Homo sapiens: one gene and its partners. The protein of the gene in region 3 purifies or fractionates together with the protein of the main gene of each other region. This does not show direct contact. Each region holds a gene or a part of one and is shown on either strand. Other genes may lie near its edges.

The links.
Region 1: the proteins of APOBEC3G (region 3) and USP49 purify together in Homo sapiens (affinity purification with western blotting; one study listed by BioGRID). This does not show direct contact.
Region 2: the proteins of APOBEC3G (region 3) and CBFB purify together in Homo sapiens (affinity purification with western blotting, with the first as the bait; one study listed by BioGRID). This does not show direct contact.

Annotation. Positions count from the first base shown.
Region 1 is NC_000006.12:41,791,886-41,794,375, reverse strand, and holds part of USP49 (ubiquitin carboxyl-terminal hydrolase 49), read left to right. Parts: 3' UTR 1-2,490. UniProt on the Homo sapiens protein: Deubiquitinase that plays a role in several cellular processes including transcriptional regulation, cell cycle progression or innate immunity.
Region 2 is NC_000016.10:67,063,610-67,067,340, forward strand, and holds part of CBFB (core-binding factor subunit beta), read left to right. Parts: intron 1-3,072; coding exon 3,073-3,189; intron 3,190-3,731. UniProt on the Homo sapiens protein: Forms the heterodimeric complex core-binding factor (CBF) with RUNX family proteins (RUNX1, RUNX2, and RUNX3).
Region 3 is NC_000022.11:39,075,639-39,079,469, forward strand, and holds the start of APOBEC3G (DNA dC->dU-editing enzyme APOBEC-3G), read left to right. Parts: upstream 1-1,636; 5' UTR 1,637-1,723; coding exon 1,724-1,740; intron 1,741-3,293; coding exon 3,294-3,447; intron 3,448-3,831.

The DNA of each region.
Region 1 (2,490 bases), on a different chromosome or scaffold from region 3:
TGGAAAATTCAAAGATCTTCCAATTTAATTTTTAAAAATAGTTTTATACCAAATATTATAAGGATTTATTAAGCAGATTAAGGACTTTGTGAAATAAGTGCTTAACTTAGCTGAGCACGCATATATCAAAGTAATAAAAGAAACTAACATCAGAGTCTCCACTGAGCTACACATTTGTGAAAGGTGCCCACTGCAGTTACAGACACCTCAGGTACCCAGAGGCGGCAGCACTGGACACTTAGGACGTTAGTATTTAAGGAGATTTTTATTAAAGAAGAGTTCCCTGCTGCATAAGCCAATGGCTATTGTGAGGGAAATGTCCCTTTGCCTTTAATTTATTTACGTACTGGGTATAGATGAATGTCTCAGTTGCATCTGAAATTGAATCATTCTAAAGAGAAGAAAATAAGAACCAGGTAAAAACTGACTAGATGCTGCCAAATCAAACCCAAGGTCTCCTAACCGAACCTTAATGGGCCTGCTTCTCTCCCAGGGCAAGTAGTTAAGAGTCTCATTCCAGGAACCCTTTGTAGTTAGTTGGCTGGCATGTTTACTTGCTGCTGTAGCCAGCCAAGATGAGTGCACCTAGGCCCTCAAAAAGGATTTTTTTTTACCTCAATCTAGCCTGACCCTCATATCTGTGGTTGCCTCTGAGACGAACATCCATGCTAGTATAAAAATAGTTAGGAATGCCCTTGGCAGAACTGAAGCTCTTATTAAATGGTGGACAGAGCTCTTGCCAGCTTTGATCCAGCCCCTCAGTCTCGGAGTTATGGGGCAGGGTTGGGGGGCAGTGCTACACTGTAAAGAATTTCCAGGCTGGGCGCGGTGGCTCATGCCTGTAATCCCAGCACTTTGGGAGGCCGAGGAGGGCGGATCACAAGGTCAAGAGATTGAGATCATCCTGGCCAACATGGTGAAACTCCGTCTCTACTAAAAATACAAAAATTAGCTGGGCATGGTGGCACGTGCCTGTAGTCCCAGCTACTTGGGAGGCTGAGGCAGGAGAATCGCTGGAACCCAGGAGGCAGAAGGGGCAGTGAGCCGAGATCGTGCCACTGCACTCCAGCCTGGCGACAGAGCGAGACTCTGTCTTAAAAAAAAAACAAAAACAAAAACAAAAAAAAAAAAAGAATTTCCAGATGTCTCTTAAAATGTCATGAATAAAATTGGAAACTGTAGAAGTGTTAATGTGTCCTATGGACTCAATAGCAGAGTTTATTTTTGTTTTTAATGGCAAGGCTTCTAGAGTCAATGATTGTATGAGTTTGCTACTCTGGCTGTGCTTACAGCTTCATCCAAGTACAAGGGAAGAACCAATGAGGTGGATTGGCTGACAGTGGGGCATGCCCCAGCATAAGCCCTAGAGAGGTCGACAGTAGTGCAGAATGAAAACTTGGTCGGGGATGGCGGGTGGTGGGTGGGAGGAGGGTGGGCTGGCCGGGAGGGAGAAATGGAGTTTGTTCTACTTACTGATAAAGCTTTGTGAACTAATTTTATACAATTCATAAAATTTGGTGCCTTGTACTCAATTACGGTTTGCATGGAATTGAAAAGATTAAGGGAAAGGATTTCTTCTTGTCATTTCAAGTGGCAAATGGGTCTGTGTAGTGTTTAAAGGACATCTGGTATCACAGACTTTTAAAAAGCATTTCATGTCTCTTGTGTGTGAATGCAAATTATTCTTACCAGCAAGTTCTGAAATTATGTTACAATGTCCAAATTCTTTGTATTTGTGACTGTTCATCAAATGGCTGCTTTTCAAGGCAGACTGTGTACTCCATTGTTTTTCACTTCCCTTGTCATGTTCCATACATTGACTTGGGCCTTTTTAAATCAGGCTGGGGGGCTACCCCTTCTTAAATGAATACTATATCCCTATCTGAGGTTACCTCTTGTGAGTGGAAGGGTTGCTTTCCCAGGTGGTTGGGAGAGCACAAATGTTGAGAAAAGGCCTTTTAGTCTTTATCAAAACAATGACTAATGCTGGGCAACATATAGCAGAAGTCAAACAAAAATGATTCCTCCTGAAATGGTACCTTCATTGGTTCTGATGTTCTTTTGCAAAAAATGTCCGGAAGCAGTATAGAAAACCCCCTGTATGTGAACCTTAGATTGTAAGGCAAGCCAGTGCACTGTGTAATATGCAAAGGGAGTGGTGCAAAAGAGAAGGCACCCGTCCCAGCTCTCCATGCCCTTTCCCTGGCAGGCGCTGACTGAGATGGCGCTGAGTGAATGTGGAAGGTGCTAAGACCCAGTCTCTTCACTGCAGGGCTGTTTACAGCCAGTTTCTTTTACTCTGACCTTAAGGTTTCCACTGAGCTCATGAAACTTCAACATATGGTGTTTAAAAGTTTCCCACTCAAATGCACACTTGAAAATTGGGTCCCTCAGCCTCATTACTGAACTAAATAAGTGAAGAAGTTGTATCTTTGGGGTAAAACTTTCCAGGGCCACTTAATTTTTTAACCAGTTAAGTACGCATCTTCC
Region 2 (3,731 bases), on a different chromosome or scaffold from region 3:
TTTTGTTATTTCTTGTAGAGACAGGGTTTCATCATGTTGTCCCAGCTGATCTTGAACTCATGACCTCCTGCCTTGGCCTCCTAAGGGGCTAGGATTACAGGCATGAGCTGCTGCGGCCAGCCAGAGGGTATAAATTCTATAAGTACTATTTTAAAGGTATCTCAGAGGTAATTTTTTTATCATGTTTATAATTATTGGCAGTCAGTTATTGTTATTAAACATCTCTAAAAACAAAAAGAATCCAAGAGTCTGAAGAGACTACTGAAATGAGTTTCAAAAAAAAGATGCTTCCAGCTTTTTCCTCAAAATGAGAAACTGTTTTACAGATTTTTATATAATTAAACAGGTAATAAATAATGCCAGATTTTAGCTCACAAAGCACTGGATTTCCCAAAGGAAATACATTTGGTGCAGGTAAATGAAAAGCCTCGTTAATAAATATATATTTGATAATCTGCAGGTTTGAAAACTCACTGAAGAATTCCCACTTCCTCTGCATTAAAAATACCTTGTTCAAGGCAGTAAATATTAACCTATGCTGGTTTATTCAGAAACTCATGTTAAACAAGGTAGAGAAGACCTAAAATTATGTGTTTTGTTTGTTTATTTGTTTTTGAGACAGAGTCTAGCTTTGTCACCCAGGCTGGAGTGCAGTGGCACGATCTCAGTTTACTGCAACCTCTGCCTCCTGGGTTCAAGCGATTCTCCTGTCTCAGCCTCCCAAGTACCTGGGATTACAGGCACCCGCCACCATGCCCAGCTAATTTTTGTATTTTTAGTAGAGACGGGGTTTCACTTTGTTGTCCAGGCTGGTCTCGAACTTCTGATCTTGTGATCCACCCGCCTCAGCCTCCCAAAGTGCTGGGATTACAAGCGTGAGCCACCGTGCCCAGCCCTAAAATTATGTTTTTAAAAGTAACTATTAGGTTAGTGTGGTATTAGGAGTGGGAAGATTGTAGAAACTGTAATAAATTTCTCTTATATTGTTTATCTCTATCACAATAAAATATTCACCTCAGGATGATAGAATTAACACCGTCCTTTCTGGGTGGATAGTTACTCTTGGGAACAATTGTATTTTGAGCCAATATGAGAATTAATTTGGTGATCAAAAATGATCTAAATTTGGGTATGATGTATACCTAAAGCAATTTTTATTCTAGAGTTATTTATTTACTTGAAAAAGAATGGTGCAGAAATGGGTTTTTGTTTTTTGTTGTTGTTTTTTATTGTTGTTGTTTCAGAAGAAAAGTTAATAAAAGTGTAAAACAGAAGTTTTCTTTTTTTTCTCTCTCTTTTTTTTGTTTGAGACAAGTCTCACTCTGTCACCCAGGCTGGAGTGCAGTGGCACTATCTCGGCTCACTGCAATCTCTGCCTCCCGAGTTCAAGTGATTCTCTTGCCTCAGCCTCCCGAGTAGCTGGGATTATAGCTGTGCGCTACCATGCCTGGCTAATTTTTGTTATGTTCAGTAGAGATGGGGTTTTGCCATGTTGGCCAGGCTGGTCTGAAACTCCTGACTTCAAGTGATCCGCCCAACTTGGCCTCCCAAAGTGCCGGGATTACAGGCATCAGCCACCGCGCCTAGCCAGGATGTAGGAATTTTCTCATGAAGCTGAAGGTTCACCAGATGAGAGATACTTTTGGTTTCAGGAATCTTGAAGATCTTTTTAAAATTTATTGGTACTTTTTTAAACTGCAGTGCATAAAGTATAGTGAACATATTTAATTTGTCAGTGACTTGAGATGTTACCATATCCTAGGATACTTATTTTCGATATTTCTCTAATGTGTAAGTAGATATACTTGTTGGATGTGATACAGTATGAAGCCTGGCTAATTTTGTCATCTAAAGGTATTATGTGTAAGGAATAAACACATTTCCATTTATTAAGAATTCAAGATGCTTGGTTAAGTTTATTCATTTTTTTATTTTTATTTTTTTACTTTTTAGAGGTGAGGTCTCTCTGTGTTGCCCAGGCAGGTCTTGAACTCCTGGCCTCAAATGATCCTCACACCTTGGCCTCCCAAAGTACTGGGATAACAGGCATTAGCCACTGGTGCCTAGCCTTTTTGTCTTAGTTGATTTTGTTATAGTATTTAAGAATTTCAACAGGGAGTTGAAATAAGTAGATTTTGGGTTAACTTACCAGTTTCTAGATAAATAATTGATACATGTAGTCAAACCCTGTGACCTTAAAACTTTTCTACTATATTTAAAAGACTGATTCACCTTACTGTTGCCTATTGGGAAAAGTAAAAAATAAATAAATAAAAAACTGTGAAATAGCTTGAATTAAATTTCATAAGTCCCATATAAAGGATAGCAGTGTTTTGTTCCGAATTATTTATGGACACCTAAAGATAACCACATACTACTTAATGTGATATAATAGTAAATATTATACCAGTTAAAGTTCTTTGGTTAAAAGCAGTAGAAATCAACTCTGGCTAACAAGACAAAAAAATAAAAAGAAAAAAAGATTAATTATCAGGAATCTGTGAGATAGCTTATAAAACTGAGGGGAGTATCAACAGCCTGATCCTGCATGCTCCAGGAACCCACGTTGAGGGAAGCAGTGCATGCTCTCTTCAGAGGGTGGTGGCTTCCAATTGTTTTCCATCTTTCTACCCAACATTCAAAAATCAAAGTGTCTGGCCGGGCATGGTAGCTCACGCCTGTAATCCTAGCACTTTTGGAGGCAAAGGCTGGCAGATTGCCTGAGCTCAGGAGTTCAGCACCAGCCTGGGCAACATGGTGAAACCCCATCTCTACTAAAAATACAAAAAAAAAAAAAAAAATTAGCCAGGCATGATGGTGAGCGCCTGTAATCCCAGCTACTGGGGAGTCCGAGGTGGGAGAATTGCTTGAACCCGGGAGGCAGAGGTTGCAGTGAGCTGAGATTGTGCCACTGCATTCCAGCCTGGGGAGCACAGCGAAACTCCATCTCAATCAATCAGTCAATCATAATTTTATTCATCTTTTCTACAGAGTTTATATAAGTAAGTTTAATCTTTTTATTTTCATGTGTCTGATGGTTTTCAATTATTTTCATCCTTTTCTGTGTCTTAGGTATATTTGAAGGCTCCCATGATTCTGAATGGAGTCTGTGTTATCTGGAAAGGCTGGATTGATCTCCAAAGACTGGATGGTATGGGCTGTCTGGAGTTTGATGAGGAGCGAGCCCAGGTAGGGTAACATCAGGCTTTATTGAGCATGGTCCCTTTAGTCCCTAATCTTGCCTTTGCCTGGGGACCTATTTTACCCAATTTTTAAGAGTAAGTATAGAAAGTATTGTGTTGAAGCAATATTGAGGAATCCTGAAAATGTTGATACTCAAATTCTGATCCTGATTTTGGGAAAGTTTTTTCTTCAGCAGTTCTAAATTTCATGGGTTATTCGTATCTGCTCAGTGGGTGCTTCAAAGTCCAGCAAGTAGCTCTTTAAAATATTTATTCTTGATCTTTAGAACACTATGAATAGGGAAAAAAGAAAAAACTGTTCAAAATAAAATGTAGGAGCCGTGCTTTTGGAATGCTTGAGTGAGGAGCTCAACAAGTCCTCTCCCAAGAAAGCAATGATAAAACTTGACAAAAATTGTTTAAAAAAAAAAAAAAAAAGCTGGACGTGGTGGCTCACACCTGTAATCCCAGCACTTTGGGAGGCTGAGGCAGACGGATCACCTGAGACTTGAGGTCAGGATTTCGAGACCAGCCTGGCCATCATGATGA
Region 3 (3,831 bases):
GTCCGGCCAACTTTGGTAGTTTTAGTAGAGACGAGGTCTCACCATGTTGGCCAGGTTGGTCTCGAACTCCTGACTGTCATACATGTCCATATAGAAGACCACCTAAACAGGCTTTGTGTAAGCAATAATGCCATTTATTCACTTGGGTGCAACTGGGCTGAGTCTGAAAAGAGAGTCAGCGAAGGGAGATAGGAGAGGGGCAGCTTTATAGGACTTGGGTAGGCGGTGGAAAGTTACAGTCAAAGGCGGTCATCTGTTGTCAGCAGGGGAGGGGGTCACAAGGTGCATGGTGGGAGACCATGAGACCCATTGTCCAGAAGAAGAATGTCATAAGGTCGATTGATCAGTTAGGGTAGGGCAGGAACAAGTCCTAATGGTGGAATGTCTTAAGGTTGGTTAATCAGTTAAGGGAGAAACTGGCTGTTTCACTTCTTTTGTGTTTTTTTGGCTGTTCCAGACTTCTTGGCTGCTGCAGGCCATCTGGATGTATATGTGCAGTTCACAGGGGTCACAATGGCTTAGCTCTGGCTCAGCGGCCTGACACTGACCTCAGATGATCCACCTGCCTCGGCCTCCCAAAATGCTGGGATTACAGGTGTGAGCCACTGTGCCCGCCTGGGATCATATGTTACACGCATGTTTGTTCAATAAGCATGGAGTGCAGCCACCCACATGAATATTCATAGCTCCTCCTGTAGCCTGTTCAATATGTATGTTTAGCTAACCCCTTCAGCATAAAGCTCCTGCCCCAACCCCTCCTGCTTCTAAATGTCTGTCTCTGGTGTTAACCAGAGGCTGCTCTTCCCAGGCTGCTGGATGGCTACCTTGCAGGCTGTCACCCTTAACAAGAAATAAAGTGTCATTTGCAAATGCATCCCTTGTGTAATTTGTAGGTCACCACGCCATGGGAACACGCTACCAGGGGAAGGGAGCTGTGAGACGCGCAGGGAGGCTCCAGACAGGCTGGCCTGGGACACCAGCCGCTGCCCTTCCATAACATGGGGACAAGAGAGGGCAAAAGTTCAGCCCACCACGGAGGATCTCCGGGCAGGAGATGGGGAAGAAGGAGAAGCAGGAAGGAAAGAGCTCAGTGTGGGGGCGCGCATGGCATCCCGGTGGGACATCTGAGGCCCACACCCACCTGCTGTCCCTCCCTCCCACGGTGGCCTCCGAGGGTGACGGCCTGGGGGGAGGCAGACGCCTGGCCATTTACTCTCCCTCCCTGTCCCCATGGCCGCTGGGTGGGGGCCGTCTCTGGGATGATCCCCGAGGGCAGGATCCGGGAGTCCCTGCGGAGGCATCAGCCTGTCTGTCTTGATGGTGGAGAGGAGGCTCCAGCTGGGCGGGACCACCAGGGGAGGGGCTTGTGCTCTGCTGGCTCAGCCTGGTGTGGACCCACCTCCCGGGCGCTGGCTGCAATGACTTTCTCTTTCCCTTTGCAATTGCCTTGGGTCCTGCCGCACAGAGCGGCCTGTCTTTATCAGAGGTCCCTCTGCCAGGGGGAGGGCCCCAGAGAAAACCAGAAAGAGGGTGAGAGACTGAGGAAGATAAAGCGTCCCAGGGCCTCCTACACCAGCGCCTGAGCAGGAAGCGGGAGGGGCCATGACTACGAGGCCCTGGGAGGTCACTTTAGGGAGGGCTGTCCTAAAACCAGAAGCTTGGAGCAGAAAGTGAAACCCTGGTGCTCCAGACAAAGATCTTAGTCGGGACTAGCCGGCCAAGGATGAAGCCTCACTTCAGGTACCGCTGCCCGCTCTACCCACTGGGCCCCTCTGCTGCCCCTTCTTGCCTGGTGGCTCTGCTGGGCGTCAGCCCTGGCCTTCCCCTGCCCCAGCCCCAGCCCTGGGCTCCCTCCCCTCTGACTCCCCTGCACCCCCTACTCCCAGCCAGGCTCCTTGCCCTGCTGTGTTGTCGCCCCACTGCTGCTTCTGAATGGGCCGCCTCCCCCATCTGTCCCAGCCCAGGTCCCCTGCTGAGACTCTCCCCTGAAAGTCATGGCTGGGGTGGTGCTCCCGGCCCTGGGAGGGTGCTCCCTCTGTGTGCTTCCCGCCATTCCTGAACTCTGGAACTGGGAGAATTGAACCAAAGGATGAGTAGAGCAAGGTGGAATTTTGTTCACAGGGCTTTGATGGATTTTCTGTAAGATTTACTTTGCTTAAATACCAAGTCTTAGGAGAGGGTGTGGGGAGGGAATGGTCTCTGAAGCACAGGATAAATCATGTCTTCCAAGGATGTCTCCACTGTGGGCAGAGGAGGATGCAGATGACCCCAAACACACGCTCCTCCTCCACTATCAGCATTCACTGTTTATAAATGACACCAGTAACATGGAATATAGTGGCCGGGTGCGGTGGCTCACACCTGTCATCCCAGCACTTTGGGAGGCTGAGGTGGGCGGATCGCCTGCGGTCAGGAGTTCAAGACCAGCCTGACCAGCATGGATAAACCCTGTCTCTACTAAAAATGCAAAATTAGCTGGGTGTGGTGGCGGGCGCCTGTAATCGCAGCTACTTGGGAGTCTGAGACAGGAGAATCCATTGAACCCAGGAGGCGGAGTTTGCAGTGAGCTGAGGTCGCCCCATTGCACTCCAGCCTGGGCAACAAGAGCAAAACTTCGTCTTGAAAGAAAAAAAAACAAAAACAAAAGAAAAAACATGGAATATATGGGAAAAAAACTCAATGATCAGGAGGAATGTTGTTATTTTAAAATTTAGTAAGAAGAGAGCCCGGTCCCCAATGGCTGCCTCCTGCAGGGCCAGTGATACAGAGACTGGACAGGGCTGGCCTGGAAAGGGGCCCCCACTCCATTTGTCCCCAGCTCTGTGGCCTGGGCAGGTTACCCCGCCTCTCTGCGCGTCTGGCCCCTCCTCTGTAAGACGGGAATGGCCCCTGCCAGCCTAGGGCAGCCTCACATGAGCTCACCCCCGCGCAGCACTTAGAAGACTGGCCTGGGCCTCAGAATTCGGTTCTACCATGATTTAACAATAATAATATACAGAGGTGAAATGTCAGGAAGGAACTGAGCTGAAAGGTTAAAAGCTGTTATTTTGGGGTGAAGAGTTTTATTCTGTCTCTCTCTCTCTTTTTTTTTGAGACGGAATTTCGCTCTTGTCGCCCAGGCTGGAGTGTAGTGGCGCGATCTTGGCTCACTACAGTCTCCGCCGAAATTCTCAGGGGAGGGGAGGGATGGGGGAGGCCTAGAGCCGTCCAGGGGGCTGTGTTTAGTGGACATCAGCCCGGAGGGCCCCCAGGAGTGCTCTCTACATTGGCTGGTTTCTCTCTTGTGTCTTCAGAAACACAGTGGAGCGAATGTATCGAGACACATTCTCCTACAACTTTTATAATAGACCCATCCTTTCTCGTCGGAATACCGTCTGGCTGTGCTACGAAGTGAAAACAAAGGGTCCCTCAAGGCCCCCTTTGGACGCAAAGATCTTTCGAGGCCAGGTACCACCCGGACTCCAATCACTTTGCAGGCAGGAGCTAAGCCAGCTGGGAAAGCAAACCACGCACTGATAAGTGAAGTGCCCGGCGGCGGGCTATCCAGTGTGTCCTTCTCTCCCACACTTTCCAAGTCCGTGGCCCTGACCTTCCTGCTGGACCGTCCTGGGATCGGATCGTGGAGGGGGTTTGCCTCTGCACAAAAGGCCTTGTGTTTCCGTTTTTCTTTTCTTTTCTTTTTTCTTTTTTTTTTTTGAGACAGAGTTTCACTCTTGTTGCTCAGGCTGGAGTGCAATGACGCGATCTCGGCTCACAGCAACCTCTGCCTCCTGGGTTCAAGCGATGCTGTCGCCTCAGACTCGCAAGTAGCTGCGATTACAGGTGCCCACC